Linked DNA regions of Homo sapiens. The protein of the gene in region 1 interacts with the protein of each later gene in a pairwise test. Each region holds a gene or a part of one and is shown in the gene's direction. Other genes may lie near its edges. The genes, in order: RASSF1, SPRED1, MECP2 and DNM2.

Region 1 (7,883 bases):
TTGTCCTTGAGTCGGGGAGCTGGGGCCTGACTCGGGGGAGGGGCTGCCCAGTGTGGAGGGGCTCCCAAATGGGGGAGCAGAGCGTTCCGAGACAGGAGTATTACTGCTCCTGAGCCCCCTGTGTCCCCTCAGGATCAGGTTAGGCTTCAGTAGGATCCAGCCCCCATCCCCACTCCTAATGCACACACGTGGACGCACATGCACTTACCCTCTGAGGCAGGTGGAACCAGCAGCATGAGAACCTGGAGAAGCTGAACATGCAAGCCATCCTCGATGCCACAGTCAGCCAGGGCGAGCCCATTCAGGAGCTGCTGGTCACCCATGGGAAGGTACCCCGAGGTCACAGGCAGGGTTCCTGCCTTCCCCCATACCTCACCTACTCTACCCCTCCGGAGTCCCCTGTGTGCCCTTCCCCTCTGGCCTGGTACACCTGTTCTCCCTGAAGGACAAAGAGGAATGTGTTACATGTTTCATTTTGTATCCCTATTGGACAGGACTCTGGCACACCAGGCTGGGTGCAGGGCATGAGTTGATTAGGGAGAAAGCTGTAGGTCCTAGAACAGCTTAGGCTTCAAGGGGAAGGCCCAAATGCTAAAGGCATCTGTGAATTGACTGTAAGGCTGGTGGTGGGGAAGGGGTGGGGAGGGGTTGGGGAGGGCGGGAGGGAGGGGAGATAACCTAACTGGAGGTGGAACTTCGGCATGGAAGGAAGCAGCCTTCCCAACATGAAAGGGGGAAGTTAGAAACCAGGGAGATGCCTGGCTGGAACATGGACCAGGGAGTGTCACCAGCAGATGACCTGAGATATCAATTGACCAAAAAAAAAAAAAAAAAAGCCGGGCATGGTAGCTCATGCCTGTTATCCCAGCATTTTGGGAGGCCAAGACGGGTGGATCATCTGAGGTCAGGAGTTCAAGGCCAGCCTGGCCAACATGGTGAAACCCCACCTCTACTAAAAATACAAAAATTTGCAGAGCATGGTGGTGCACACCTGTAATCCCAGCTACTCGGGAGGCTGAGGCAGGAGAATCGCTTGAACCTGGGAGGCAGAGGTTACAGAGAGCCAAGATCATGCCACTGCACTCCAGCCTGGGTGACAAGAGTGAAACTCCGTCTCAAAAAAAAAAAAAAAAAAAAGAAAGGTCCTTTGCAAAAGAAAGATGGAACTCATACTAGGGGATAGGATAGGAACAGGGCACTGTGAAGGGTCCTGAGTAGGAGTGAGGCCAAGGCACACAAGAGCTTTGGAGGACCACAGACAGGGACTAGAGGGAGGGCATGAGGAGAAGGGCTGGCTTGAAAGGGATGCCTGAATGGGCGGGCAGAGGATAAGGGTGCAGGTGCAGGCAGGGCAAGGCAGTCTGGGAACTGGGCAGGAGCCAGTCACATAAGCATGAGGGACATCCACAGAGGTGTTGGGAGCAGCTGGTAATGAAGGTCCAAGGTGCAAGAGAGAAGTCAGGAAGGATACTCATGGGTCTGGAATAGTTTAGGGGCCCAGCAGTGTTTGGGGATATCAGGGTTGAGCTGAGCCGGGGATGGGAGGGTTGCCAGGCAAAGGTAGGCCCATCTCATCCCTGTCCTTTACCCTACCCTTCAAAGGTCCCAACACTGGTGGAGGAGCTGATCGCAGTGGAGATGTGGAAGCAGAAGGTGTTCCCTGTGTTCTGCAGGGTGGAGGACTTCAAGCCCCAGAACACCTTCCCCATCTACATGGTGGTGAGCTGGGCCCCTGGTTCATACCTCTTCTCACTCCTTCAGAGGGCTCTGGACCGGGGAGGAGAGCTGGTAGCCCCTATCCCTTCCTCAGGCCCTGTCCTTCTCTTTATCTGACAGGTGCACCACGAGGCCTCCATCATCAACCTCTTGGAGACAGTGTTCTTCCACAAGGTGAGGGACTATCTCTGCCCATGGGCCACAGTTCCGGGTCAGGGCCTGGCAGGAAGGGAGATTGTGTCTGTGTGGGGAAGGCATCAGACACAGAAAGTTTCCCTCCTCCTTTTCCCAGGAGGTGTGTGAGTCAGCAGAAGACACTGTCTTGGACTTGGTAGACTATTGCCACCGCAAACTGACCCTGCTGGTGGCCCAGAGTGGCTGTGGTGGCCCCCCTGAGGGGGAGGGATCCCAGGACAGCAACCCCATGCAGGTGGGTTGAGGTTACCTAGGGTTGTGAAAGCCTAGGTCTGGGTTCCCCAAGGCCTGCGCAGGTGAGGGTGGCCCAGCGTGAACACTGTGTGACCTCCCAGGAGCTGCAGAAGCAGGCAGAGCTGATGGAATTTGAGATTGCACTGAAGGCCCTCTCAGTACTACGCTACATCACAGACTGTGTGGACAGGTGAGCAGTCCGACTGGGCCTGGGCCTACTGTGGAGGGCTGGAAGACCGGGCCTGTAGCCTGCCTCTACTCACCTCCTTCACAACGTCCCTGCCCCTAGCCTCTCTCTCAGCACCTTGAGCCGTATGCTTAGCACACACAACCTGCCCTGCCTCCTGGTGGAACTGCTGGAGCATAGTCCCTGGAGCCGGCGGGAAGGAGGTAGGGTCCTCCCCCACCAGCCTAAGCCCCAGGCTACTGCTTCAGGGTATCTTTTTGATAGAGGGGGGCAGCTTGCACACACGAAGACAAACCCTGTCCCCAAGCCCACTGAGGATACCAGGATGCCTCAGCCAAGGTTGGCCTAGACCTGAGCTCTGCAGCAGGCCAGGCCCATGTGTCCACTACTGAGGCTCACCCTGCTCTGGGGTCAGCAGCCCTATAGCCTGGGCAAGTCCTGCAGCCCAGGTTCTCCCATTCCCAGGCAGTGGTCAGTCTCCCAGCCCCCACAGCTGGCTCACTTGAAGAGAATTCAACGTCTGCACCCAGTGTGCTGGTTCCTCTCCCCAGGCAAGCTGCAGCAGTTCGAGGGCAGCCGTTGGCATACTGTGGCCCCCTCAGAGCAGCAAAAGCTGAGCAAGTTGGACGGGCAAGTGTGGATCGCCCTGTACAACCTGCTGCTAAGCCCTGAGGCTCAGGCGCGCTACTGCCTCACAAGTTTTGCCAAGGGACGGCTACTCAAGGTCAGACTCCCTCCGCACCAGCCCCCACAGCCCCAGTACCGCCCTCCCCATCCTACCCCGACTGCGTCCCTGCTGTTTATCTTTGCCCACCCACCTCAACCCCAGTGCTCTTTTCAGTCCTTGGGCCTCAGGTGACACACCAGCTAGTGGGACATGGGCCCCCACAGGCATTCTCAGCCCAACCCAGCCCCTTCCTTTTCCTTGGCCCCCTGGCCAGCACCTGCATCACACTGGCCTCCACTGGACACCCTTGCAGCTTCGGGCCTTCCTCACAGACACACTGCTGGACCAGCTGCCCAACCTGGCCCACTTGCAGAGTTTCCTGGCCCATCTGACCCTAACTGAAACCCAGCCTCCTAAGAAGGACCTGGTGTTGGAACAGGTAGGCACTGGAAAGTTAGCTGCTCAGGACCACTGTCCCACTTTACCAGCACCTTCCTGCCACTCTCCACTTCTCTCTCCTAGATCCCAGAAATCTGGGAGCGGCTGGAGCGAGAAAACAGAGGCAAGTGGCAGGCAATTGCCAAGCACCAGCTCCAGCATGTGTTCAGCCCCTCAGAGCAGGACCTGCGGCTGCAGGCGCGAAGGTAAGGCCTGTGGAAATGGCAGGGAGGGTGGAGGGGATGCAGGAGGCATGGATGTGGGTGGGGTGCCCCCACCTTCCAGGGCCAGTCAGACCTTCCTGACTTTCCCCCAGGTGGGCTGAGACCTACAGGCTGGATGTGCTAGAGGCAGTGGCTCCAGAGCGGCCCCGCTGTGCTTACTGCAGTGCAGAGGCTTCTAAGCGCTGCTCACGATGCCAGAATGAGTGGTATTGCTGCAGGTGAGGGTATCCTAGAACCTTGGACCTCTAAGCCCTACTCCCACATCCCCCACATGCATTGCCATCCTCAATACCCACCTGCCTGCAGGGAGTGCCAAGTCAAGCACTGGGAAAAGCATGGAAAGACTTGTGTCCTGGCAGCCCAGGGTGACAGAGCCAAATGAGGGCTGCAGTTGCTGAGGGCCGACCACCCATGCCAAGGGAATCCACCCAGAATGCACCCCTGAACCTCAAGATCACGGTCCAGCCTCTGCCGGAGCCCCAGTCTCCGCAGTGGAGAGCAGAGCGGGCGGTAAAGCTGCTGACCGATCTCCCTCCTCCTCACCCCAAGTGAAGGCTCGAGACTTCCTGCCCCACCCAGTGGGTAGGCCAAGTGTGTTGCTTCAGCAAACCGGACCAGGAGGGCCAGGGCCGGATGTGGGGACCCTCTTCCTCTAGCACAGTAAAGCTGGCCTCCAGAAACACGGGTATCTCCGCGTGGTGCTTTGCGGTCGCCGTCGTTGTGGCCGTCCGGGGTGGGGTGTGAGGAGGGGACGAAGGAGGGAAGGAAGGGCAAGGCGGGGGGGGCTCTGCGAGAGCGCGCCCAGCCCCGCCTTCGGGCCCCACAGTCCCTGCACCCAGGTTTCCATTGCGCGGCTCTCCTCAGCTCCTTCCCGCCGCCCAGTCTGGATCCTGGGGGAGGCGCTGAAGTCGGGGCCCGCCCTGTGGCCCCGCCCGGCCCGCGCTTGCTAGCGCCCAAAGCCAGCGAAGCACGGGCCCAACCGGGCCATGTCGGGGGAGCCTGAGCTCATTGAGCTGCGGGAGCTGGCACCCGCTGGGCGCGCTGGGAAGGGCCGCACCCGGCTGGAGCGTGCCAACGCGCTGCGCATCGCGCGGGGCACCGCGTGCAACCCCACACGGCAGCTGGTCCCTGGCCGTGGCCACCGCTTCCAGCCCGCGGGGCCCGCCACGCACACGTGGTGCGACCTCTGTGGCGACTTCATCTGGGGCGTCGTGCGCAAAGGCCTGCAGTGCGCGCGTGAGTAGTGGCCCCGCGCGCCTACGAGAGCGGAAGGGGCAGCCAAGGGGCAGCGCAGTCGCCGCGGGTCAAGTCGCGGCAGAGGGGGTCGGCGGGGACAGCTCCCGAGGACTAGGTCCGTTACTTTCGCCCCATCGCTGAAGAGTGCGCGAAAATGGTTTATCCCTTGTCGCACTCCACTCGTATCTGGGCCACAGATGAGCAGAGGTGGCTGCTTATATGTAAAAATACGCTGATTTTAAGTTTCTTATCTTTAAAATGCCTTGGCCCTTCTTGAGAAAGGGTTTGTGCCTACTGTCCTCGGAGTCCATCTTCCCAGGCTTGCCTCTTCTCAAACACTCATGACCCCCTCCAGAACCTTTAGGGTGAAGGGAAATTACCACCTATGGGAGGGAGCCTGGAAAAATTTAGAACCTTTGGTGGGCCCCCTGCAAGCAGGAGTTTTGTTGAGTCTTTATTTAGCAAACACCCTTTTCTGACCCAGTGAATCAGATGCTAAAATATGCACGCAGCCACACACCCAGCAGTCCTTCTGCACCCCTGGGAATCGCCAGCAAGCAAAGGTTGCTCTCCCCTGGGTAGACACCAGCTGGAATCACCAGGGGTGCTTTTACAGTCCTCCCCGCTAGCCTGGATCCCACCGCAGACCTGTTGAATCAACTGCTGGGAGTGGACCCTAGGCATCAGTAAATTTTAAAAACTCCCCAAATTATTGTAACATGGAGTCTGGGTTGAGCATCACTGCTCTGGCCTATTTAGGAACTTGTGGATGGATAGTGTCCCAGGTCTGTGTGTGCATGGAGACCCTCTCATCCGGTACAAGAGGACATCACAAATTCAGCTGGGGGGAGCACAAAGTTGTGACAGAATGCAAAGAATGAACAAGGGGCCGAGCGCGGTGGCTCATGCCTGTAATCCCAGCACTTCGGAAGGCGGAGGCGGGTGGATCACCTGAGGTCAGGAGTTCAAGACCAGCCTGGCCAACATGGTGAAACCTCATGTCTACTAAAAAATAAAAAAAAATGAGCCAGGCGTAGTGGCGGGTGCCTGTAATCCCAGCTACTCGGGAGGCTGAGGTGGGAGAATTGCTTGAACACAGGAGGCGGAGGTTGCAGTGAGCCGAGATCGTGCCACTGCCCTCCAGCCTTGGCGACAGAGTGAGACTCTGTCTCAAAAAAAAAAAAAAAAAAAAAAAGAACAAGGCTGGGACATTGCAGCGTTCTCAAAGAGAAATAAAGTAGCCATGGAGATAAGAAGCAGGATGATTTGGGCATGTTTATCAGAGGTAGAGACAAGGGAGAAATCAAAGATAAGTTTGGGCTTTTGTCTCCAGTAACTGGGAGCCTAGTGGCCATTTTTGCTGCAAAGAGGAAGCTGGGCAAGTGTAGCAGTGAGGCTGAAGAAAAGGGAATTAAATTTTGGCCATGTTCACTTGAAACGTCTTTTAGACATCCTAGTGAAGGTACTGGCACGGAGGATCTAGTCTGAGGGTTTAGGTCAGTGTTTCAGCCGTGGATCTGGGGCAGATGAATGTAGACAGACCAGGCCAGTGATCAGGACTGAGCCCAGACTTCATCGTGAGATATGGAAGTTGAGTCAGAATCTGCAAAGGAGCTGAGCAGGAGCTGCAGGGGGTAGGAGGAAAACTGGGAGAGTGTAGCCCCTGGGAGTCAAAGGGAGCAAGCTTCAAATGATGCTGAGGGGGTGAGAATGGAGAATGGAACACTGGATTCCATTTGGTAGTACACAGATCGCTGAGGACCCTGTCCCGGGCAGTTTCCTGGAGGAAGAGGCAAGCCTGGCTGGAGTGGGTAGAGGGGAGAGTGAAGGCGAAGGATTAGAGTGTATAGAGACCAGTGTCTTGGTCTGAGGGGAGTAGAGACAGGTGACAACCACAGGGCAGACGTAGGTTAAAGGTGTTTAGTTTTTCCTTCAAGTAAATGGGCAGATGTATTCCATATACGTTCCCAGTGAAGGGCCGGGTGCGGTGGCTCAAGCCTGTAGTCCCAGCACTTTGGAAGGCCGAGGCGGGTGGATCACCTGAGATCAGGAGTTTGAGACCAGCCTGGCTAACATGGTGAAACCCCGTCTCTACTAAAAATACAAAAATTAGCTGGGCATGGTGGCGGGCGCCTGTAATCCTAGGTACTCAGGAGGCTGAGGCAGAAGAATCGCTTGAACCCAGGAGGCGGAGGTTGCGGTGAGCCGAAATCGCGCCATTGCACTCCAGCCTGGGTGACAAAAGCAAGACGCAGTTTTTTGTTGTTGTTTTTTTAATTGCCAATGAGGAAAGGGGAAGTTCTGTGCTAGGCGATAGAGATCCAACTGTTGAGCAGGCCTCTCTGCCTGTGGCCTTCCGGCCGGTTTCCAGACGCCCAGGTGGCCAACATTAGAGTCCGCGTAGCAGTGTGAGGTAACCCACTGAGATAGGTCGGGCCTGCGGAGCCTGGCGAGCAGCGGCCCTCTCCCTGGGGCTTCCCTTCAATCTCCGGGACATTTCCCCGACCTGGAGCTCCTCCGCCTCACCGCCAGGCCTCTCTGCAGATTGCAAGTTCACCTGCCACTACCGCTGCCGCGCGCTCGTCTGCCTGGACTGTTGCGGGCCCCGGGACCTGGGCTGGGAACCCGCGGTGGAGCGGGACACGAACGTGGTGAGCGCGGGGCCGAGGGCGTATGGGAAGGGCGAGGATGGGCAGGCCACAGTGCAGGCATTCTCGAGGGCTGCCTGGGTGCCGCGCGCAAGGAGCGTTCTAATTGCCGATTTCCCGGCGGCACAGAGAGGCTAATTCTGCGCGGGGGCTGGGAGGGGAGCCTGGATTGCCGGCTCCGCAAGTACTCCACCCGCTGCAAGCGGACCCGGGCCCAGGCTGACCCAGGCTCCGCGCACGCGCACTTCCCGCACCTTCCCGCCCTCGCCTCCGGCCAGAGGCCACTCTTGTGCGCTTGCCCGGACGCTGGCACCCGCCCCCGTTCCCTGTGGTAGGTG
Region 2 (4,855 bases), on another chromosome or scaffold:
TCTAGTTTTGTACTAAAAATCAATTGGATGAACTAAATCCAAAACATGACACTGTAGGCAGCAGTTTTAAGTCTTATTTTTACTGTTTATATATTTGAATGCTGCTACAACAGATGATCTTCATCCCTGAAGTTTTCAGCTAAACTTGGTTTCCTAGAATAGACTGTTAACTTTCAAAATTTTTATTGGTGAAATGGAAATACTGTTTTTCCTTGTGAATGAATTTTCATATTTGTAAGTGCTAAGTTTATAATTCAGGTTTGATCAAGGTGTGAATAACTGAAGAAAATAACTTGCTGGCTATATAGGAAAATGCTGTGGAAATGAACTGTGTATATACTTCTGGGAGGAACAAATTTAATCATTTCTTCTGTTAAGCACTAATCAGTATAGTGCAACTCCTGGTTCTGTACTGTATTTTATATGCAACATATATGCTTTAATATTTTAATGTTTGTGCATTAATATTTTCAATTTGTTTAACCACTTTGCTGCTAAGATTTTGCCGTCCCATTCCCATTTTTTCCTTTACAATTTTAAACAAGTTTCTTCATTAAAAACTATGGTGATGAAATGGTTTTTATTTTACCTTGGATCTTTATAGTTAACATACCCAGTTTCTTAATCAGTCTACAAGACTAACTGATGATATAATGTTCTCTGAATCCCTATATGGAAATTTTCTTTTGAGTAAATGAGAATTCCTTTGTGAAAGCAAATGGGTAGTTTAAATCACTGATTCTTAAACATGTGTATAGGCACCTTCAGGAACATTTTCTCATTCTCTGTACAGATTCGGCACTGCCAATTGGCTTTTCCTCTAAAACTTTTCTTTGTTTTTATCTGATATAAGCAGATGGCTCAAGACAACTGCTTGAGTAATAGTATTGAAAATGGAATCATCTAGACGGCATGACAAGCAAGACTGGTCTGATGAACTTGTTCAGAATTGATAATTCTTAAATATTTCTCTTGGCTTCAAAAGGGACATCATTTGATTTCTGAAGAAGTATGTCGTGTGGAGCTTCAGCACCACCTACTGGATGATTTCCAGGCCAGAGACATGAGATGGCAATAGGGATCTGACAGGGTTCATCACTACTACCATTAAAGGGCTATTTATGTGGTGACCACCTCTACCAGGGAAACCAGGAATAAGAACTGTCTCAAAGGAATTGTAAAATGGTTATTTACCTAATGTGTCTTGTTGGCTTGCTGAAAGATTTTAAGCACTTTTTTCTTACATATCCTGTTTTAAAATATTTGTTGATATTTGGGACTGGCAATCAAACTTAATGGATGTACTGAGGCATTTATAGAACCAGTTGCTTTAACTCTCAAAAGCCATTACCAAAATGGTATTTTTTTCCTCCTTCCGCCAGTCAGGGAGAATTTTTAAAAATAATAATCAAAACATGAAAAAACATAATCACACCTGTATTTTATCATGACAGCTTCAGAGAGTGTGTGTGTACGTTTTTCTCTCTTTTATTTGAGACGGAGTTTCACTCTTGTTGCCCAGGCTGGAGTGCAATGGTGCGATCTCAGCTCACTGCAACCTCCGCCTCCTGGGTTCAAGCGATTCTCCTGCCTCAGCCTCCCAAGTAGCTGGGATTACAGGCACCCACCACCATGCCCAGCTAAGTTTTGGTATTTTAGTAGAGATGGGGTTTCACCATGTTGGCCAGGCTGGTCTTGAACTCCTGACCTTAGGTGATCCACCCACCTCGGCCTCCCAAAGTGCTGGGATTACAGGCATGAGCTACTGCGCCCAGCCGTGTGTATGTTTCTGAAATGATGATGGGGTGGGGTTAAAATCTAAAGGGAAAAACTTGAAACTACCTATTTTCATTGGTTATTCAGCAGTGCCTAAAATGAGCTTTTGAAGTAATGTAAATGCACTTTCAATTCATGTGTATAGTGCCATCTGATATCTTGGGTAAGTCTTGCTTTTTCTTTTCTTTTTCCTCTCCCCTGCCCCCTTAATTAAATGGCACGGAAATGTTTCTTAATATGCACGTGAGTCTCCAGAGTACAGGAAATGTGCTTTCCTCTAAATGGTCAATGTAAAGAATCTTAAGGATATTTCTTGTGTTGAAATTTACATTCGATTTTGTGATTACACTTGGAAGTATGTGTTAAATTGGGTTTTTAATTGTAGCCCAAAGGTGCATTAAGCAAGTGTAACATTTTTTCCACATAAAACTTAGAAAACTTTAGTTACCTGAAAAGCAAGGATTCTTTACTAATTATTATGCTCATTCTTGATTTGACTTCCATGTTCACACTTCAAAGTGTAAGAGGAAGCACTAGAAACTGGCATTATTGTTGCACTAAAAAAGTCTATAAATCATAATAGCACCATGAGGTGTTTTGCAATGAGACAAACATGAAGAATGAATTTCTTTAAGAGAGAAACACAACCGGAGGTGATTTATATAAACCAAAAGAAAAAAAAAGGCTTTAAGGTATTAGGTACTGTTTGCCTAGCAGCCAGGTGGTTATAAAAGATTCATATGCTTTGGTACACTGATAAATGTTAGCCATTATTCCTGAAAGCTTCTTAAATTGCATCAGTTGTTTTGAAATTTTTTCAAGAATAAACTAGTTGAAAAGTCTTTGTATTAAAAATACACATAGATTTTTGTGAACATTTCCAGTGTGTAGTGTCGTTTGCTTTCTATTTCTGACCTCAAAAGTGCCTCACTTGTATATTATTTCCATTAAAAGCTTGACTGCATTCTTTCTAATGAACAATGAAAAACTGTTTAACTCATGTCATAATGTGTCTCCTCAGATATAGTTAACTAGCTTGATAGTTTTGAGTATATAATGTAAATAATACATTATAAGTTTGTAACCATTTCTGTTACTTCATACCCGTGTAATTGGACATAGCAGATGATTATCATAAGAATTTGTTTTAATGGTTTTTTTCCCTCCTGGAATTACCTGATTAAACCTGTCATGAATTATAAAAGGACTTTTTCTTATTCTCCTAGAGCTTATCAAATTATCACATAAGAGATAATTACTGGAGGAGAAAGTAAAAATGGAAGCTTTTGATAATTAGCTCTGTTCTTTAAAAGTATACTTTTAAACTGAAAGTTCACATATAGTTCATCTTAATAACATATTTATTCATCCTTAATTGTATTCAGATTTTTTTTTAAGTCTCTAAGCTAATAATGTTATATTTATTGGTTTGGTAACATGTTGCAGCTAAGCTAATGACCTTAAGTGGCAATTGTTTAACCCAGGACTACTGATTTTTTTATATTCAAGTCAGTTTCATCGTTTTACTTAACTCGCCATATAACCAAAAATAACGAATAATCTAAAGGAAAGGTTATTAGGACAGTAATAAAAAATTATAGTGTATCTCAACACTAGAATAAGTTGGATTACTATATTATAGTTTATTTGAAAAATCAAGGAGTAACTGTATCTTTACCATTAATTATGAAATGTAGTCTCATGTGCTTATTTACAGGTTTTTCAGAATTTGCTTTACATTCTTCACATCAAGTTAATACCCACAAGTAAGTAGAATAGCTTTTATAACAAGGAAATTGAAACTAGGGTTCTAGCTTGGCTATCAATATAAGTGTCATGCACATAGTGCTCCTTAAAGAAAAAGACATCGACATCAATGGTATGAAAGCTGTAGTCACTCTTTAAATTGAACTGCTCTAAGATTTGCAGTTTTAGTGAGATCTGAAATGATGGTTCAAAAAATACATTCATAATAAAAGTCTTAACAAAATCACAGTTGAAATAGTGTTTCTTTTGTCTTTATTTTTGTTACATAATGTATTTTATACATGATTACTTTTAATCCTCAAGTAACCTTGTAAGTATTATCTTCCTTATTTTTCTAAGGAAGAGATTTGGGCATCAAAAGGTCAAAATACCAGATAACACAGAGGCACCAGGTCTGAAACAAATTGACTCCAAAGCATAGGCTTTTCTTCCTGATGCAGTTTCAGCTTTCTGTTACAGGAGTCACAGATACACTTCATAAAATAATCATTCTGTTAAAATGAAATTCTATTTATTATTTTAAGCTGGAGTAATTTTGTTTTATAAAGGAATAATTTCTTAATTTCTACTCTCCCTTGTCCATTTCTGGGCCCCCTATCTCACTAAGTTGTGGTACGTGATCCACAGTATGGCATGGGAATTTTTTAAATTGGAGGATAATTGTGATAATGCTTCAAGATATGCCAGTTGTGAGTTGATCCAATGGGAAGCACTAAAAACATACATAGTTCAGTTTGTGGAATTGTTCATTTTGCTCAATTGGTGGTATTTTATTGGAGGGATTCATTTTCACCAAAGCAGCAATACTTCTCCTTGAGGCAGTAGGAAACAATGCTCTAAAATGAGCCGTGTATACAGTACTCTTCCGACCTCCCGCTCCCCCCGCCCCCCCCCCCCCAAATGATGAGCGATTCATCTGTCAGTTATTCCACAGAGCCTCTTTTGGGAACCAAAGTTGCATTTATTGTCAGGACTACTTTTTTTTTTTTTTTTTTTCTGGAGACACAGTCTCGCTCTGTGCCCAGGCTGGAGTGCAGTGAGCAATCACATTACACTGCAAACTTGACCTCCCAGGCTCAAACAACCTTTCCACCTCAGCCTCCCAAGTAGCTGGGACCACAACAATTGCCACCATACCCAGCTAATTTTTTTCTTTTTTTGTAGAGACAAGGTGATGCTGTGTTACCCAAGCTAGTTTCGAACTCCTGGGCTCAAGCAATCCTTCTACTTCGACCTCCCCAAAGTGCTGAGATGACTGGCATGAGCCACCGCACCCGGCCAGGACTACTACTGAAACATGTTTCCCACAATG
Region 3 (7,941 bases), on another chromosome or scaffold:
AGCACCGTACCTGAGTTCAAACTTGGGAATGTTCTAGATGGTGACTCAGGCCCAGGCACCAACCAGCAGAATGGGCCTCAGCCTGACAACCCTTCTGTACCAGGCCTGACTCTTTGGTTGCTGAACTTTGGAGAGGCCTGGGGGGGTCAGCGGCAGGCAGACGAGTGAGTGGCTTTGGTGACAGGTCCTCAGGGGCAGCCAGGCAGTGTGACTCTCGTTCAATAGTAACGTTTGTCAGAGCGTTGTCACCACCATCCGCTCTGCCCTATCTCTGACATTGCTATGGAGAGCCTCTAATTGTTCCTTGTGTCTTTCTGTTTGTCCCCACAGTCCCCAGGGAAAAGCCTTTCGCTCTAAAGTGGAGTTGATTGCGTACTTCGAAAAGGTAGGCGACACATCCCTGGACCCTAATGATTTTGACTTCACGGTAACTGGGAGAGGGAGCCCCTCCCGGCGAGAGCAGAAACCACCTAAGAAGCCCAAATCTCCCAAAGCTCCAGGAACTGGCAGAGGCCGGGGACGCCCCAAAGGGAGCGGCACCACGAGACCCAAGGCGGCCACGTCAGAGGGTGTGCAGGTGAAAAGGGTCCTGGAGAAAAGTCCTGGGAAGCTCCTTGTCAAGATGCCTTTTCAAACTTCGCCAGGGGGCAAGGCTGAGGGGGGTGGGGCCACCACATCCACCCAGGTCATGGTGATCAAACGCCCCGGCAGGAAGCGAAAAGCTGAGGCCGACCCTCAGGCCATTCCCAAGAAACGGGGCCGAAAGCCGGGGAGTGTGGTGGCAGCCGCTGCCGCCGAGGCCAAAAAGAAAGCCGTGAAGGAGTCTTCTATCCGATCTGTGCAGGAGACCGTACTCCCCATCAAGAAGCGCAAGACCCGGGAGACGGTCAGCATCGAGGTCAAGGAAGTGGTGAAGCCCCTGCTGGTGTCCACCCTCGGTGAGAAGAGCGGGAAAGGACTGAAGACCTGTAAGAGCCCTGGGCGGAAAAGCAAGGAGAGCAGCCCCAAGGGGCGCAGCAGCAGCGCCTCCTCACCCCCCAAGAAGGAGCACCACCACCATCACCACCACTCAGAGTCCCCAAAGGCCCCCGTGCCACTGCTCCCACCCCTGCCCCCACCTCCACCTGAGCCCGAGAGCTCCGAGGACCCCACCAGCCCCCCTGAGCCCCAGGACTTGAGCAGCAGCGTCTGCAAAGAGGAGAAGATGCCCAGAGGAGGCTCACTGGAGAGCGACGGCTGCCCCAAGGAGCCAGCTAAGACTCAGCCCGCGGTTGCCACCGCCGCCACGGCCGCAGAAAAGTACAAACACCGAGGGGAGGGAGAGCGCAAAGACATTGTTTCATCCTCCATGCCAAGGCCAAACAGAGAGGAGCCTGTGGACAGCCGGACGCCCGTGACCGAGAGAGTTAGCTGACTTTACACGGAGCGGATTGCAAAGCAAACCAACAAGAATAAAGGCAGCTGTTGTCTCTTCTCCTTATGGGTAGGGCTCTGACAAAGCTTCCCGATTAACTGAAATAAAAAATATTTTTTTTTCTTTCAGTAAACTTAGAGTTTCGTGGCTTCAGGGTGGGAGTAGTTGGAGCATTGGGGATGTTTTTCTTACCGACAAGCACAGTCAGGTTGAAGACCTAACCAGGGCCAGAAGTAGCTTTGCACTTTTCTAAACTAGGCTCCTTCAACAAGGCTTGCTGCAGATACTACTGACCAGACAAGCTGTTGACCAGGCACCTCCCCTCCCGCCCAAACCTTTCCCCCATGTGGTCGTTAGAGACAGAGCGACAGAGCAGTTGAGAGGACACTCCCGTTTTCGGTGCCATCAGTGCCCCGTCTACAGCTCCCCCAGCTCCCCCCACCTCCCCCACTCCCAACCACGTTGGGACAGGGAGGTGTGAGGCAGGAGAGACAGTTGGATTCTTTAGAGAAGATGGATATGACCAGTGGCTATGGCCTGTGCGATCCCACCCGTGGTGGCTCAAGTCTGGCCCCACACCAGCCCCAATCCAAAACTGGCAAGGACGCTTCACAGGACAGGAAAGTGGCACCTGTCTGCTCCAGCTCTGGCATGGCTAGGAGGGGGGAGTCCCTTGAACTACTGGGTGTAGACTGGCCTGAACCACAGGAGAGGATGGCCCAGGGTGAGGTGGCATGGTCCATTCTCAAGGGACGTCCTCCAACGGGTGGCGCTAGAGGCCATGGAGGCAGTAGGACAAGGTGCAGGCAGGCTGGCCTGGGGTCAGGCCGGGCAGAGCACAGCGGGGTGAGAGGGATTCCTAATCACTCAGAGCAGTCTGTGACTTAGTGGACAGGGGAGGGGGCAAAGGGGGAGGAGAAGAAAATGTTCTTCCAGTTACTTTCCAATTCTCCTTTAGGGACAGCTTAGAATTATTTGCACTATTGAGTCTTCATGTTCCCACTTCAAAACAAACAGATGCTCTGAGAGCAAACTGGCTTGAATTGGTGACATTTAGTCCCTCAAGCCACCAGATGTGACAGTGTTGAGAACTACCTGGATTTGTATATATACCTGCGCTTGTTTTAAAGTGGGCTCAGCACATAGGGTTCCCACGAAGCTCCGAAACTCTAAGTGTTTGCTGCAATTTTATAAGGACTTCCTGATTGGTTTCTCTTCTCCCCTTCCATTTCTGCCTTTTGTTCATTTCATCCTTTCACTTCTTTCCCTTCCTCCATCCTCCTCCTTCCTAGTTCATCCCTTCTCTTCCAGGCAGCCGCGGTGCCCAACCACACTTGTCGGCTCCAGTCCCCAGAACTCTGCCTGCCCTTTGTCCTCCTGCTGCCAGTACCAGCCCCACCCTGTTTTGAGCCCTGAGGAGGCCTTGGGCTCTGCTGAGTCCGACCTGGCCTGTCTGTGAAGAGCAAGAGAGCAGCAAGGTCTTGCTCTCCTAGGTAGCCCCCTCTTCCCTGGTAAGAAAAAGCAAAAGGCATTTCCCACCCTGAACAACGAGCCTTTTCACCCTTCTACTCTAGAGAAGTGGACTGGAGGAGCTGGGCCCGATTTGGTAGTTGAGGAAAGCACAGAGGCCTCCTGTGGCCTGCCAGTCATCGAGTGGCCCAACAGGGGCTCCATGCCAGCCGACCTTGACCTCACTCAGAAGTCCAGAGTCTAGCGTAGTGCAGCAGGGCAGTAGCGGTACCAATGCAGAACTCCCAAGACCCGAGCTGGGACCAGTACCTGGGTCCCCAGCCCTTCCTCTGCTCCCCCTTTTCCCTCGGAGTTCTTCTTGAATGGCAATGTTTTGCTTTTGCTCGATGCAGACAGGGGGCCAGAACACCACACATTTCACTGTCTGTCTGGTCCATAGCTGTGGTGTAGGGGCTTAGAGGCATGGGCTTGCTGTGGGTTTTTAATTGATCAGTTTTCATGTGGGATCCCATCTTTTTAACCTCTGTTCAGGAAGTCCTTATCTAGCTGCATATCTTCATCATATTGGTATATCCTTTTCTGTGTTTACAGAGATGTCTCTTATATCTAAATCTGTCCAACTGAGAAGTACCTTATCAAAGTAGCAAATGAGACAGCAGTCTTATGCTTCCAGAAACACCCACAGGCATGTCCCATGTGAGCTGCTGCCATGAACTGTCAAGTGTGTGTTGTCTTGTGTATTTCAGTTATTGTCCCTGGCTTCCTTACTATGGTGTAATCATGAAGGAGTGAAACATCATAGAAACTGTCTAGCACTTCCTTGCCAGTCTTTAGTGATCAGGAACCATAGTTGACAGTTCCAATCAGTAGCTTAAGAAAAAACCGTGTTTGTCTCTTCTGGAATGGTTAGAAGTGAGGGAGTTTGCCCCGTTCTGTTTGTAGAGTCTCATAGTTGGACTTTCTAGCATATATGTGTCCATTTCCTTATGCTGTAAAAGCAAGTCCTGCAACCAAACTCCCATCAGCCCAATCCCTGATCCCTGATCCCTTCCACCTGCTCTGCTGATGACCCCCCCAGCTTCACTTCTGACTCTTCCCCAGGAAGGGAAGGGGGGTCAGAAGAGAGGGTGAGTCCTCCAGAACTCTTCCTCCAAGGACAGAAGGCTCCTGCCCCCATAGTGGCCTCGAACTCCTGGCACTACCAAAGGACACTTATCCACGAGAGCGCAGCATCCGACCAGGTTGTCACTGAGAAGATGTTTATTTTGGTCAGTTGGGTTTTTATGTATTATACTTAGTCAAATGTAATGTGGCTTCTGGAATCATTGTCCAGAGCTGCTTCCCCGTCACCTGGGCGTCATCTGGTCCTGGTAAGAGGAGTGCGTGGCCCACCAGGCCCCCCTGTCACCCATGACAGTTCATTCAGGGCCGATGGGGCAGTCGTGGTTGGGAACACAGCATTTCAAGCGTCACTTTATTTCATTCGGGCCCCACCTGCAGCTCCCTCAAAGAGGCAGTTGCCCAGCCTCTTTCCCTTCCAGTTTATTCCAGAGCTGCCAGTGGGGCCTGAGGCTCCTTAGGGTTTTCTCTCTATTTCCCCCTTTCTTCCTCATTCCCTCGTCTTTCCCAAAGGCATCACGAGTCAGTCGCCTTTCAGCAGGCAGCCTTGGCGGTTTATCGCCCTGGCAGGCAGGGGCCCTGCAGCTCTCATGCTGCCCCTGCCTTGGGGTCAGGTTGACAGGAGGTTGGAGGGAAAGCCTTAAGCTGCAGGATTCTCACCAGCTGTGTCCGGCCCAGTTTTGGGGTGTGACCTCAATTTCAATTTTGTCTGTACTTGAACATTATGAAGATGGGGGCCTCTTTCAGTGAATTTGTGAACAGCAGAATTGACCGACAGCTTTCCAGTACCCATGGGGCTAGGTCATTAAGGCCACATCCACAGTCTCCCCCACCCTTGTTCCAGTTGTTAGTTACTACCTCCTCTCCTGACAATACTGTATGTCGTCGAGCTCCCCCCAGGTCTACCCCTCCCGGCCCTGCCTGCTGGTGGGCTTGTCATAGCCAGTGGGATTGCCGGTCTTGACAGCTCAGTGAGCTGGAGATACTTGGTCACAGCCAGGCGCTAGCACAGCTCCCTTCTGTTGATGCTGTATTCCCATATCAAAAGACACAGGGGACACCCAGAAACGCCACATCCCCCAATCCATCAGTGCCAAACTAGCCAACGGCCCCAGCTTCTCAGCTCGCTGGATGGCGGAAGCTGCTACTCGTGAGCGCCAGTGCGGGTGCAGACAATCTTCTGTTGGGTGGCATCATTCCAGGCCCGAAGCATGAACAGTGCACCTGGGACAGGGAGCAGCCCCAAATTGTCACCTGCTTCTCTGCCCAGCTTTTCATTGCTGTGACAGTGATGGCGAAAGAGGGTAATAACCAGACACAAACTGCCAAGTTGGGTGGAGAAAGGAGTTTCTTTAGCTGACAGAATCTCTGAATTTTAAATCACTTAGTAAGCGGCTCAAGCCCAGGAGGGAGCAGAGGGATACGAGCGGAGTCCCCTGCGCGGGACCATCTGGAATTGGTTTAGCCCAAGTGGAGCCTGACAGCCAGAACTCTGTGTCCCCCGTCTAACCACAGCTCCTTTTCCAGAGCATTCCAGTCAGGCTCTCTGGGCTGACTGGGCCAGGGGAGGTTACAGGTACCAGTTCTTTAAGAAGATCTTTGGGCATATACATTTTTAGCCTGTGTCATTGCCCCAAATGGATTCCTGTTTCAAGTTCACACCTGCAGATTCTAGGACCTGTGTCCTAGACTTCAGGGAGTCAGCTGTTTCTAGAGTTCCTACCATGGAGTGGGTCTGGAGGACCTGCCCGGTGGGGGGGCAGAGCCCTGCTCCCTCCGGGTCTTCCTACTCTTCTCTCTGCTCTGACGGGATTTGTTGATTCTCTCCATTTTGGTGTCTTTCTCTTTTAGATATTGTATCAATCTTTAGAAAAGGCATAGTCTACTTGTTATAAATCGTTAGGATACTGCCTCCCCCAGGGTCTAAAATTACATATTAGAGGGGAAAAGCTGAACACTGAAGTCAGTTCTCAACAATTTAGAAGGAAAACCTAGAAAACATTTGGCAGAAAATTACATTTCGATGTTTTTGAATGAATACGAGCAAGCTTTTACAACAGTGCTGATCTAAAAATACTTAGCACTTGGCCTGAGATGCCTGGTGAGCATTACAGGCAAGGGGAATCTGGAGGTAGCCGACCTGAGGACATGGCTTCTGAACCTGTCTTTTGGGAGTGGTATGGAAGGTGGAGCGTTCACCAGTGACCTGGAAGGCCCAGCACCACCCTCCTTCCCACTCTTCTCATCTTGACAGAGCCTGCCCCAGCGCTGACGTGTCAGGAAAACACCCAGGGAACTAGGAAGGCACTTCTGCCTGAGGGGCAGCCTGCCTTGCCCACTCCTGCTCTGCTCGCCTCGGATCAGCTGAGCCTTCTGAGCTGGCCTCTCACTGCCTCCCCAAGGCCCCCTGCCTGCCCTGTCAGGAGGCAGAAGGAAGCAGGTGTGAGGGCAGTGCAAGGAGGGAGCACAACCCCCAGCTCCCGCTCCGGGCTCCGACTTGTGCACAGGCAGAGCCCAGACCCTGGAGGAAATCCTACCTTTGAATTCAAGAACATTTGGGGAATTTGGAAATCTCTTTGCCCCCAAACCCCCATTCTGTCCTACCTTTAATCAGGTCCTGCTCAGCAGTGAGAGCAGATGAGGTGAAAAGGCCAAGAGGTTTGGCTCCTGCCCACTGATAGCCCCTCTCCCCGCAGTGTTTGTGTGTCAAGTGGCAAAGCTGTTCTTCCTGGTGACCCTGATTATATCCAGTAACACATAGACTGTGCGCATAGGCCTGCTTTGTCTCCTCTATCCTGGGCTTTTGTTTTGCTTTTTAGTTTTGCTTTTAGTTTTTCTGTCCCTTTTATTTAACGCACCGACTAGACACACAAAGCAGTTGAATTTTTATATATATATCTGTATATTGCACAATTATAAACTCATTTTGCTTGTGGCTCCACACACACAAAAAAAGACCTGTTAAAATTATACCTGTTGCTTAATTACAATATTTCTGATAACCATAGCATAGGACAAGGGAAAATAAAAAAAGAAAAAAAAGAAAAAAAAACGACAAATCTGTCTGCTGGTCACTTCTTCTGTCCAAGCAGATTCGTGGTCTTTTCCTCGCTTCTTTCAAGGGCTTTCCTGTGCCAGGTGAAGGAGGCTCCAGGCAGCACCCAGGTTTTGCACTCTTGTTTCTCCCGTGCTTGTGAAAGAGGTCCCAAGGTTCTGGGTGCAGGAGCGCTCCCTTGACCTGCTGAAGTCCGGAACGTAGTCGGCACAGCCTGGTCGCCTTCCACCTCTGGGAGCTGGAGTCCACTGGGGTGGCCTGACTCCCCCAGTCCCCTTCCCGTGACCTGGTCAGGGTGAGCCCATGTGGAGTCAGCCTCGCAGGCCTCCCTGCCAGTAGGGTCCGAGTGTGTTTCATCCTTCCCACTCTGTCGAGCCTGGGGGCTGGAGCGGAGACGGGAGGCCTGGCCTGTCTCGGAACCTGTGAGCTGCACCAGGTAGAACGCCAGGGACCCCAGAATCATGTGCGTCAGTCCAAGGGGTCCCCTCCAGGAGTAGTGAAGACTCCAGAAATGTCCCTTTCTTCTCCCCCATCCTACGAGTAATTGCATTTGCTTTTGTAATTCTTAATGAGCAATATCTGCTAGAGAGTTTAGCTGTAACAGTTCTTTTTGATCATCTTTTTTTAATAATTAGAAACACCAAAAAAATCCAGAAACTTGTTCTTCCAAAGCAGAGAGCATTATAATCACCAGGGCCAAAAGCTTCCCTCCCTGCTGTCATTGCTTCTTCTGAGGCCTGAATCCAAAAGAAAAACAGCCATAGGCCCTTTCAGTGGCCGGGCTACCCGTGAGCCCTTCGGAGGACCAGGGCTGGGGCAGCCTCTGGGCCCACATCCGGGGCCAGCTCCGGCGTGTGTTCAGTGTTAGCAGTGGGTCATGATG
Region 4 (7,941 bases), on another chromosome or scaffold:
TGAAAGTGCTTTCACGTTACACACTTAAGCCTTATGAGGGAGGCATTGCTATAATCCCCATTTTACAGAGCAGGAAACTGAGGCTCAGATAGCTGAGCAGAACACTCTCACTGGAGGCTGTAAAGTGAGGAGTTAGGTGTTCTGGGTTGGGAACCTGGGTCTCTCTCCCATCCTTACCTCTCCTCAGTCCCTCTACCCCTTGCCTTTCTCTCCTGTCTACCATGGTGTCTGGCAGCTGCCGGCCAGTATGGAGCTGGTTCCTGTGGCGACCTCCTAGAATCCTGCAATGCAGGAGTTGCTCATTATATATATATTTTTACACCGAGTCTCACTCTGTTCCCCAGGCTGGAGTGCAGTGGTGTTATCTCAGCTTACTGCAACCTCCACCTCCCATGTTCAAGCGATTCTCATACCTCAGCCTCCCGAGTAGCTGGGATTACAGGCGCGCGTTACCACACCCGGCTAATTTTTGTATTTTTAGCAGAGATGGGGTTTCACCATGTTGGCCAGGCTGGTCTTGAACTCCTGACCTCAGGTGATCCGCCCACCTCGGCCACCCAAAATGCTGGCATTAAAGGTGTGAACCACCATGGCTGGCCTCGTTAAGAGTATTAATTCAGTACCTGAAAGCCAAAGTTGTAAAAAGGCCTCTCTTTGGGTATGAGGGGCTCAAACAAGGCTTACTTTTTTTTGGGGGGGTGTAAGAGATAAGGTCTCTCTTTGTTGCCGAGGTTGGAGTGGAGGGGTGCAGTCCTAGCTCATTGCAGCCTCGAACTCCAGGGCTCAAGCAATCCTCCTGCCTCTGCCTCTAAAAGCACTAGGATTACAGGTGTGAGCCATTGCGCCGAGCCTGGATTTTCTAAGGATGTGGTCCGAGTGGGAACAGCCCAGTTAGTTCAGCCCTATAGCTGGAAGTCCAGATCACTGGCTCTGGGGGCCAAGGCCTGCCTGCTGGGTCTTTTGTTTTACCTGCGTAGCTTTTGTTTTTAATAAGACTTTCCAGTGTTAGATTTCCAGTCAATATCCGGATTTCTTGTGGCTCTAAGACACTCAGATCTATAGAGTTCTGAGTTGTCATGCAAAGGCTGTGGGCCTAAGGCCTGGTTCCACCATGTCTGGCTGTGCGACTCGGCCACGTGGATTTGGCGTTCTGGGCCTCAGATTCCTTTTCTGTAAGCTGAGGGTGGTAACTGGTACCCTGGGGCCTAGATGGGTGATTGGGTGATGCGTGCCGAGTGCATGTGTCTTATACGCATGGTGGCTGTTGTTGTAATCAGTTTCACCTGGCGTTGCTGAGCCTTTGTCCCTTGTGGCAGTAATGGCTTCGATTTCAGAAGCACCAGTCACTGTCCCATCAGACTAAGAGTGGCCACTCCAGCTGCCACAGTCCCCACTACTCCCTAGCACTCACCCAGGCCTAGATCATTTTGCTTGGAGCCTCCTGGCCCTGGAACCTTTGAGTTTGAGACCCCTGGCTTGTCTGCGGTGCACCAGCAGATAGAACTTTGGCCCTAAGGAGAAAGGAGGGCATCACTCCCTCTTGACCCTTGTCATTTAGCCTCAGGGGCTGGCCAGAAGGAAGGCCTTAGGCATTCCCGCACCCTAGCCTCCCGAGTAGCTGGGACTGCAGGCACCCGCCACCACGCCTGGCTAATTTTTGTATTTTTAGTAGAGACGAGGTTTCACCATGTTAGCCAGGATGGTCTCAATCTTCTGACCTTGTGATCCGTCCACCTCGGCCTCCCAAAGTGCTGGGATTACAGGCGTGAGCCACCGCGCCTGGCCTGAGATAGGGTCTTATACTGTCACCCAGGCTAGAGTGCAGTGGCACCATCTCTGCTCACTGCAGCCTTGACCTCCTGGGCTCAAGCGATTCTCCTACCTCTCAGCCTCCTAAGTAGCTGGGACTACAGGCACGTGCCACCACGCTTGGCTAATTTTTCATTTTTTGTAGATACAGGGCCTTGCTGTGTTGCCCAGGCTGGTCTCGACCTCCTCGCCTCAAATGATCCTCCTGCATCAGTCTCCCAACGTGCTGGCATTACAGGTGTGAGCCACTGCGCCCAGCCTCCTCTTCATTAAAATACAAGTTATAATAGCACTTCTTTCCCTTTCTTTTTTTTTTTTGAGACGGAGTCTGGCTCTGTTGCCCAGGCTGGAGTGCAGTGGTGCGATCTCGGCTCACTGCAATCTCGCCTCCTGAGTTCAAGTGATTCTCCTGTCTCAGCCTCCCGAGTAGCTGGGACTACAGTTGCGAGCCACCACACCTGGCTAATTTTTTTTTTTTTTTTTTTGAGACGGAGTTTCATTCTTGTTGCCCAGGCTGGAGTGCAATGGCACGATCTTGGCTCACCGCAACCTCCCCTCCTGGTTTCAAGCCATTCTCCTGCCTCAGCCTCCTGAGTAGCTGGGATTACAGGCATGCACCACCACGCCTGGCTAATTTTGTATTTTTAGTAGAGGCGGGGTTTTCCCGTGTTGGTCAGGCTGGTCTCGAACTCCCGACCTCAGGTGATCTGCCGGCCATGGCCTCCCAAAGTGCTGGGATTACAGGCGTGAGCCACCGTGCCCGGCTAATTTTTCTATTTTTAATAGAGATGGGGTTTCGCCATGTTGGCCAGGCTGGTTCCAAACTCCTGACCTCAAGTGATCTTCCTGCCTTGGCCTCCCAAGGTGCTGGGATTGCAGGTGTAAGCCACCGCGCCCAGCCCCGTCTTCTTTAAAATAGGAGTTATAATAGCACTTCTTTCCCTTTCTTGAATAGGGATTAAGTGAGACAGTTTGGAGTGCTTGGCATAGAAGAAGTGCTTAAAACATTAGGTGTTGTTCGTTCATTAAAAAATGTTTCCTGAGTACTTTTACTGTGTGCCTGGGGACATGGCCCTGAGCAAGTTACCAGAACTTCTGCTCTGGAGGAGCTGGCCTTTCAGCAGGAAGCAAATAAAGGAGAAGCATGGGCCACTTAGTGGCTCAGGCCCACAATCTCAGCTCTTTGGGATCCAGGCGGGAGGATCACTTGAGCCCAGAAGTTGGAGACCAGCCTGGGCAACATAGACCCCGTCTCTACAAAAAATAAAAACATTAGCTGGGCATGGTGACACCTGTAGTCCCAGCTACTCAGGAGGCTGAGGCCGGAGGATGGCTTGAGCCTGGGATTTCAAGGCTGCAGTGAGCTCTGATCACGCTACTGCCTTCCAGCCTGGGCGGAAGAACGAGACCTCGTCTCAAAAAAAAAAAAAAAGGCGATAAGTATGATGGAAAAAAGGATCAAGGAGCAGGATGAGGGAGAGATCACAGTTGGAGGGGGTACATTTTATTTTATTATATTATTATTCTTTGAGACGGAGTCTCACTCTGTCTTCCAGGCTGGAGTGCAGTCACGCGATCTCGGCTCACTGCAACCTCCGCCTCCCAGGTTCACGCCATTCTCTTGCCTCAGCCTCCCGAGTAGCTGGGATTACAGGCGCCTGCCACCAGGCCCGGCTAATTTTTTGTATTTTTAGTAGAGATGGAGTTTCACCATGTTAGCCAGGATGGTCTCGATCTCCTGACTTCGTGATCCGCCCGCCTCGGCCTCCCAAAGTGCTGGGATAACAGGCGTGAGCCACTGCGCCTGGCCAGAGGGGGTACATTTTAAATAGGGAAATTGGTGACATTTGAGCAGAGCCTTGAAGGAGGCGAGGAAGGAACCCCTGGAGACGGGAAGAGAATCCAGTGCAAAGGTCCTGATGTGGGAGGATGCCCGGAGGCCAGTTTAGCAGGCCAGTGGAGGGAGATCAGATCTGGGAGATATTAGGGTGGGACCAGGCCTCTAGGAACATTGTGGGCAGGGAGGCTGTCTGAGCAGAGGGAAGTAAAGCTGGTGGCGCTACTGCTGTCCCTCTGGACCTGGCCAAGCTGAGGGCTCTCTCCTTTGATTTCCAGCTTCAACTCAGTTTTCTCAGTAAGCAGACTCCACAGGCATGTAGGCGCCCCGTGCCATTTTTCTTTTAATAAGAAGCAGCTGTGCCGGGGATGCTGGCGTTTCCAGCTGCGTTTTTATTTGGCCTTTGGTGATGTGTCCCTCCAGGGATATGTGGATGAGCCGCGGGGGCACTGCCTGTGCCTCAGTGGGTGCTGCACCAGTGCACATCGGATGCCCGTTGGCTCCTGTCCCTGACAGATGGAGGGGCACGTGATGTGTTCCTTGGGCTGGTTTGTCCCTTTAACAGATCTTATTAGTTTAGAGCCACTTGGAAATGACATCTTCTGTTTCCAGTGACTTTCCTTTTGGGCAAAGACAAATTGCATCTTGAAAAGGCCATACATGGCCGGGCATGGTGACTCACACCTGTAATCCCAGCATTTTGGGAGGCCGAGGCAGGCAGATCACAAGGTTGGGAGTTTGAGACCAGCCTGGCCAACATAGTGAATCCCGATCTCTACTAAAAATACAAAAATTAGCCAGGTGTGGTGGCGCATGCCTTTAGTCCCAGCTATTTGGGAGGCTGAGGCAGGAGAATCACTTGAACCCAGGAGGAGGAACTTGCAGTAAGCGGAGATCACGCCATTGCACTCCAGCCTGGGGGACAGAGTGAGACTCCATCTCAAAAAAAAAAAAAAAAGGAAAAAAGGAAAGGCCATGCAAGGCTCGGTTAGGGTGGTCTGCAGTGCTGGGCCTGCTGGAATTGGTACAGTCCAGAGGGATCTGTGGGAATATGGAAGGCTTGGTTCTGCCACACACCAAAAAAGTGACCTCACTTCTCTGGGCCTCAGTTTCCTCATCTGGAAAATGGGAACATGGTGGTCTCTGCCTACTGGGAGTGGACTGAGAATCACGTAGCAAATTGTTGTGAAACAGGCAGCATTTGTGATCTCGTTGGTTGGCTTTTGTCTCCTTTTATCTGGGATCAGGACTCTGATGACAGGTGTACGTTTCTTTTCTCTTGCTCTGTCCCCCAGACTGGAGTACAGTGGCGTAATCATGGCTCACTGCAGCCTCCAACTCCTGGGTTCAGGTGGTCCTCTCACCTGAGTCTCCTGAGTAGCTGGGACTATAGGCATGAGCCACCACACCTGGCTAATTACAAAAAAATTTTTTTGGCAGGGAGCGATGGCTCACACTTGTATTCCCAGCACTTGGGGAGGCCGAGGCGGGCGGATCACGGGGTCAAGAGATTGAGACCATCCTGGCCAACATGGTGAAACCCTGTCTCTACTAAAAATCCAAAAATTAGGTGGGTGTGGTGGCTCTCACCTGTAGTCCCAGCTGCTCGGGAGGCTGAGGCAGGAGAATCGCTTGAACCTGGGAGGCGGAGGTTGCAGTGAGCCGAGATCGTGCCACTGCACTCCAGCCTGGGCGACAGAGCGAGACTCTGCCTCAAAAAAAAAAAATTTTTTTTTTTTTAGAGACAGGGTCTTACTTTGTTGCTCAGTTTGGTGTCAAACTCCTGGGCCCAAGCGATCCTCCTGCCTTGGCTTCCCAAAGTGGTGGAATTACAGGTGTGAGCCGCCGAACCCGGCCTTAGTTTCTTTTTCCTTAAAGAGAAGGAACTCATCATTACTCTGTTGATATAAATGGAGTGCCTATCAGTGCAGGCAATGTTCTTGCTCTGGGGATACAGCCAGGACCAGGACATGCAGGCACGCCCTGTTCCCCAGATCCTGAAATATCGACCAGAAGTTGTTCCTGGTTCCTTTCTAAGTGGGAATCATGGCTGCAAACAAGTAATTGGCCGTGAGAGTTATTTACACACATTTTGTGTACGGTGATGAGAAATGGGAGAAAAAATGCCCAGCATCGGATCACCAGAGGTCAGGAGTTCGAGACCAGCCTGGCCAACATGGTGAACCCTCATCTCTACTAAAAATACAAAAATTAGCCGGGCGTGGTGGCAGGCGCCTGTAATCCCAGCTATTCGGGAGGCTGAGGCGGAGAATCGCTTGAACCTGGGGGACGGAGGTTGCGGTAAGCCGAGATTGCGCCGCTGCACTCCAGCCTGGGCAACAGAGCGAGACTCTGTCTCAAAACAAACAAACAAACAAAAACCAATGATAGGGGATTTGGCCAGATAAGCGTGTCCAGACAACCGACTATCAACTCGCTACTCAGAGGGATCTAGAAGAATCTTTAATGACCCAGAAAGCTGCACAAGACCTGTTAGGTACCAGATGAAATGGGCTGTGGGATCCTGTCTTGTTTAAAACGATTGTATTTGCTCAGTGAAAAGACCGGAAAGACATACTCTGCCCTAACCCCACATGTGAATCGTCTCCCCATGTGATTCTTGGTTTGTTTTTGCTGGTTTGGGGATTAGGTTTATAATCAGGAAGACAGATTTCTCCAAAGCTGCGCTCTAGGCTGTCCAAGTGCTTTTTCAGAGTTACTTATTGACGGATAACAGCCCTTGATAGGTTCATAACATTGAAATCCCCTGGTAATAACCTGGATTGTTTCTGGATGAGGGCGGAAGATGGCCTTGGGGACAGTTGTAGATTTAGAGAGGAGGTTTTCTTTTCTTTTCTTTTTCTTTTTTTGTTTTTTTTTGAGACGGGATCTCACTCTGTTGCCTAGGCTGAAATGCAGTGGCGTGATCACAGCTCACAGCAACCTCAACTTCCTGGGCTCAAGGGATCTTCCCACTTCAGCCTCCCAATTAGCTGGGACCACAGGTGTGCGCCACCACCCCCAGCTAATTTTAAGAAATTTTTTGTAGAGGTGGGGTCTCATTATTTTTTGCCCAGGCTAGTCTCAAACCCCTGGGCTCAAGTGATTCTCCTGCCTCGGCTTCCCAAAGTGCTGGGATTACAGGCAAGAGCCACGGCACCCGGCCTAGGTTAGATTTAGAGTTTTCAGAGTTGGCTTAGGCGGTAGAGGCTGGCCTTTGAATGGAACCCTGTCTCGCTGTCGCTCTCAGCGTTTATATTTGGCTCAGAGCCACATCTGCCAAACTTCTGCCCGATTTGAATGAAAGTGCTGAAATTATAGGCCCCTCGGCTGCTGAAAAAAAGTGAGAACATCATGTAAACCGTAATTTACTGGGATTGCCAACTACAAGCTGTAATTAAGCCCTTATTGTGTTAAAGCTTTGGAAAAATCCAAGCCAATAATGAGATATTTATAGGGCATTAGCTACAATCTGAATAAAGGGAAAATGTGGCCCTGCGTCTGAAGCAGGACTGCAAAGAGAGGAAAGACGCCTGCTTCCGGGTGCGTTTTGGGTTTCTGTGAATATTGGTAACTAGGTCCCTGCTGGGTGGTGGGAAATTTTCCCCTGTGGCGTCACCCGTAGCTTGAACCGGGAGCTGGATGACTGTTTCAGTTTCATCTGCTGCTGGACATTTATGATGTTAAGAGCCAGTGTTTATGGAGAATCACCGTGTGCCACATGTGCAAGATCTGACCAGTGTCTTCTCTGCCCAGGGGTGGCAGCTGCTGCTCTTAGCATCCCTGCTTTATAGGTAGAGAAACTGAGGCCAGAGAGGGAGACTGGCCTGAAGTCACACAGGGAGGAGGACAGAGGAGTTGGAGCTTGAACTGGATGTGGGCCCTCTAGAGCCACACATATGGCGGCTTTGGGTGGGAAGGTGTGGGCCTGACTCTTGAGAGCAGGGCTGAATGGTGGGCACCATGGCGTTTGTATCTGAGGACTGGGCCAAGATTACAGAGGGAGTGAGCAACGCGTGGCTTTGGATATGCATCGAGGTTGTCAGCTCTGTGTCCAGCCTGCGTGTGGTAAGCAGCAACCACTCTACACCAGTTGCTGGGCACCCAGCAGGGACTGGGACAGACAGGACAGGTGAACAGTTAAATGAGCAAGAACATTCTGGGGCAGGCACAGGGGCTCACACCTGTAATCCCAGCACTTTGAGAGGCCAAGGCGGGCAGATCACTTGAAGCCAGGTGTTCGAGACCAGCCTGGCCAGCATGGCGAGCCCCATCTCTACCAAAAATACAAAAAT

The links.
Region 2: the proteins of RASSF1 (region 1) and SPRED1 interact in binary tests that used the Homo sapiens proteins (3 or more experiments, as listed by UniProt).
Region 3: the proteins of RASSF1 (region 1) and MECP2 interact in binary tests that used the Homo sapiens proteins (3 or more experiments, as listed by UniProt).
Region 4: the proteins of RASSF1 (region 1) and DNM2 interact in binary tests that used the Homo sapiens proteins (3 or more experiments, as listed by UniProt).

Annotation. Positions count from the first base shown.
Region 1 is NC_000003.12:50,337,570-50,345,452, reverse strand, and holds the start of RASSF1 (ras association domain-containing protein 1), read left to right. Parts: upstream 1-4,616; 5' UTR 4,617-4,647; coding exon 4,648-4,897; intron 4,898-6,246; exon of another isoform or gene 6,247-6,359; intron 6,360-7,152; exon of another isoform or gene 7,153-7,429; coding exon of another isoform or gene 7,430-7,441; coding exon 7,442-7,548; exon of another isoform or gene 7,549-7,883. Other genes in the region: ZMYND10 (zinc finger MYND domain-containing protein 10), read left to right, coding at 221-329, 1,603-1,719, 1,837-1,890, 2,009-2,146, 2,247-2,335, 2,435-2,535, 2,884-3,056, 3,313-3,438 and 3 more. UniProt on the Homo sapiens protein: Potential tumor suppressor. Required for death receptor-dependent apoptosis. Mediates activation of STK3/MST2 and STK4/MST1 during Fas-induced apoptosis by preventing their dephosphorylation.
Region 2 is NC_000015.10:38,353,479-38,358,333, forward strand, and holds the end of SPRED1 (sprouty-related, EVH1 domain-containing protein 1), read left to right. Parts: 3' UTR 1-3,771; downstream 3,772-4,855. UniProt on the Homo sapiens protein: Tyrosine kinase substrate that inhibits growth-factor-mediated activation of MAP kinase. Negatively regulates hematopoiesis of bone marrow.
Region 3 is NC_000023.11:154,023,840-154,031,780, reverse strand, and holds part of MECP2 (methyl-CpG-binding protein 2), read left to right. Parts: intron 1-327; exon of another isoform or gene 328-330; coding exon 331-1,414; 3' UTR 1,415-7,941. UniProt on the Homo sapiens protein: Chromosomal protein that binds to methylated DNA. It can bind specifically to a single methyl-CpG pair. It is not influenced by sequences flanking the methyl-CpGs.
Region 4 is NC_000019.10:10,720,858-10,728,798, forward strand, and holds part of DNM2 (dynamin-2), read left to right. Parts: intron 1-7,941. UniProt on the Homo sapiens protein: Catalyzes the hydrolysis of GTP and utilizes this energy to mediate vesicle scission at plasma membrane during endocytosis and filament remodeling at many actin structures during organization of the actin cytoskeleton.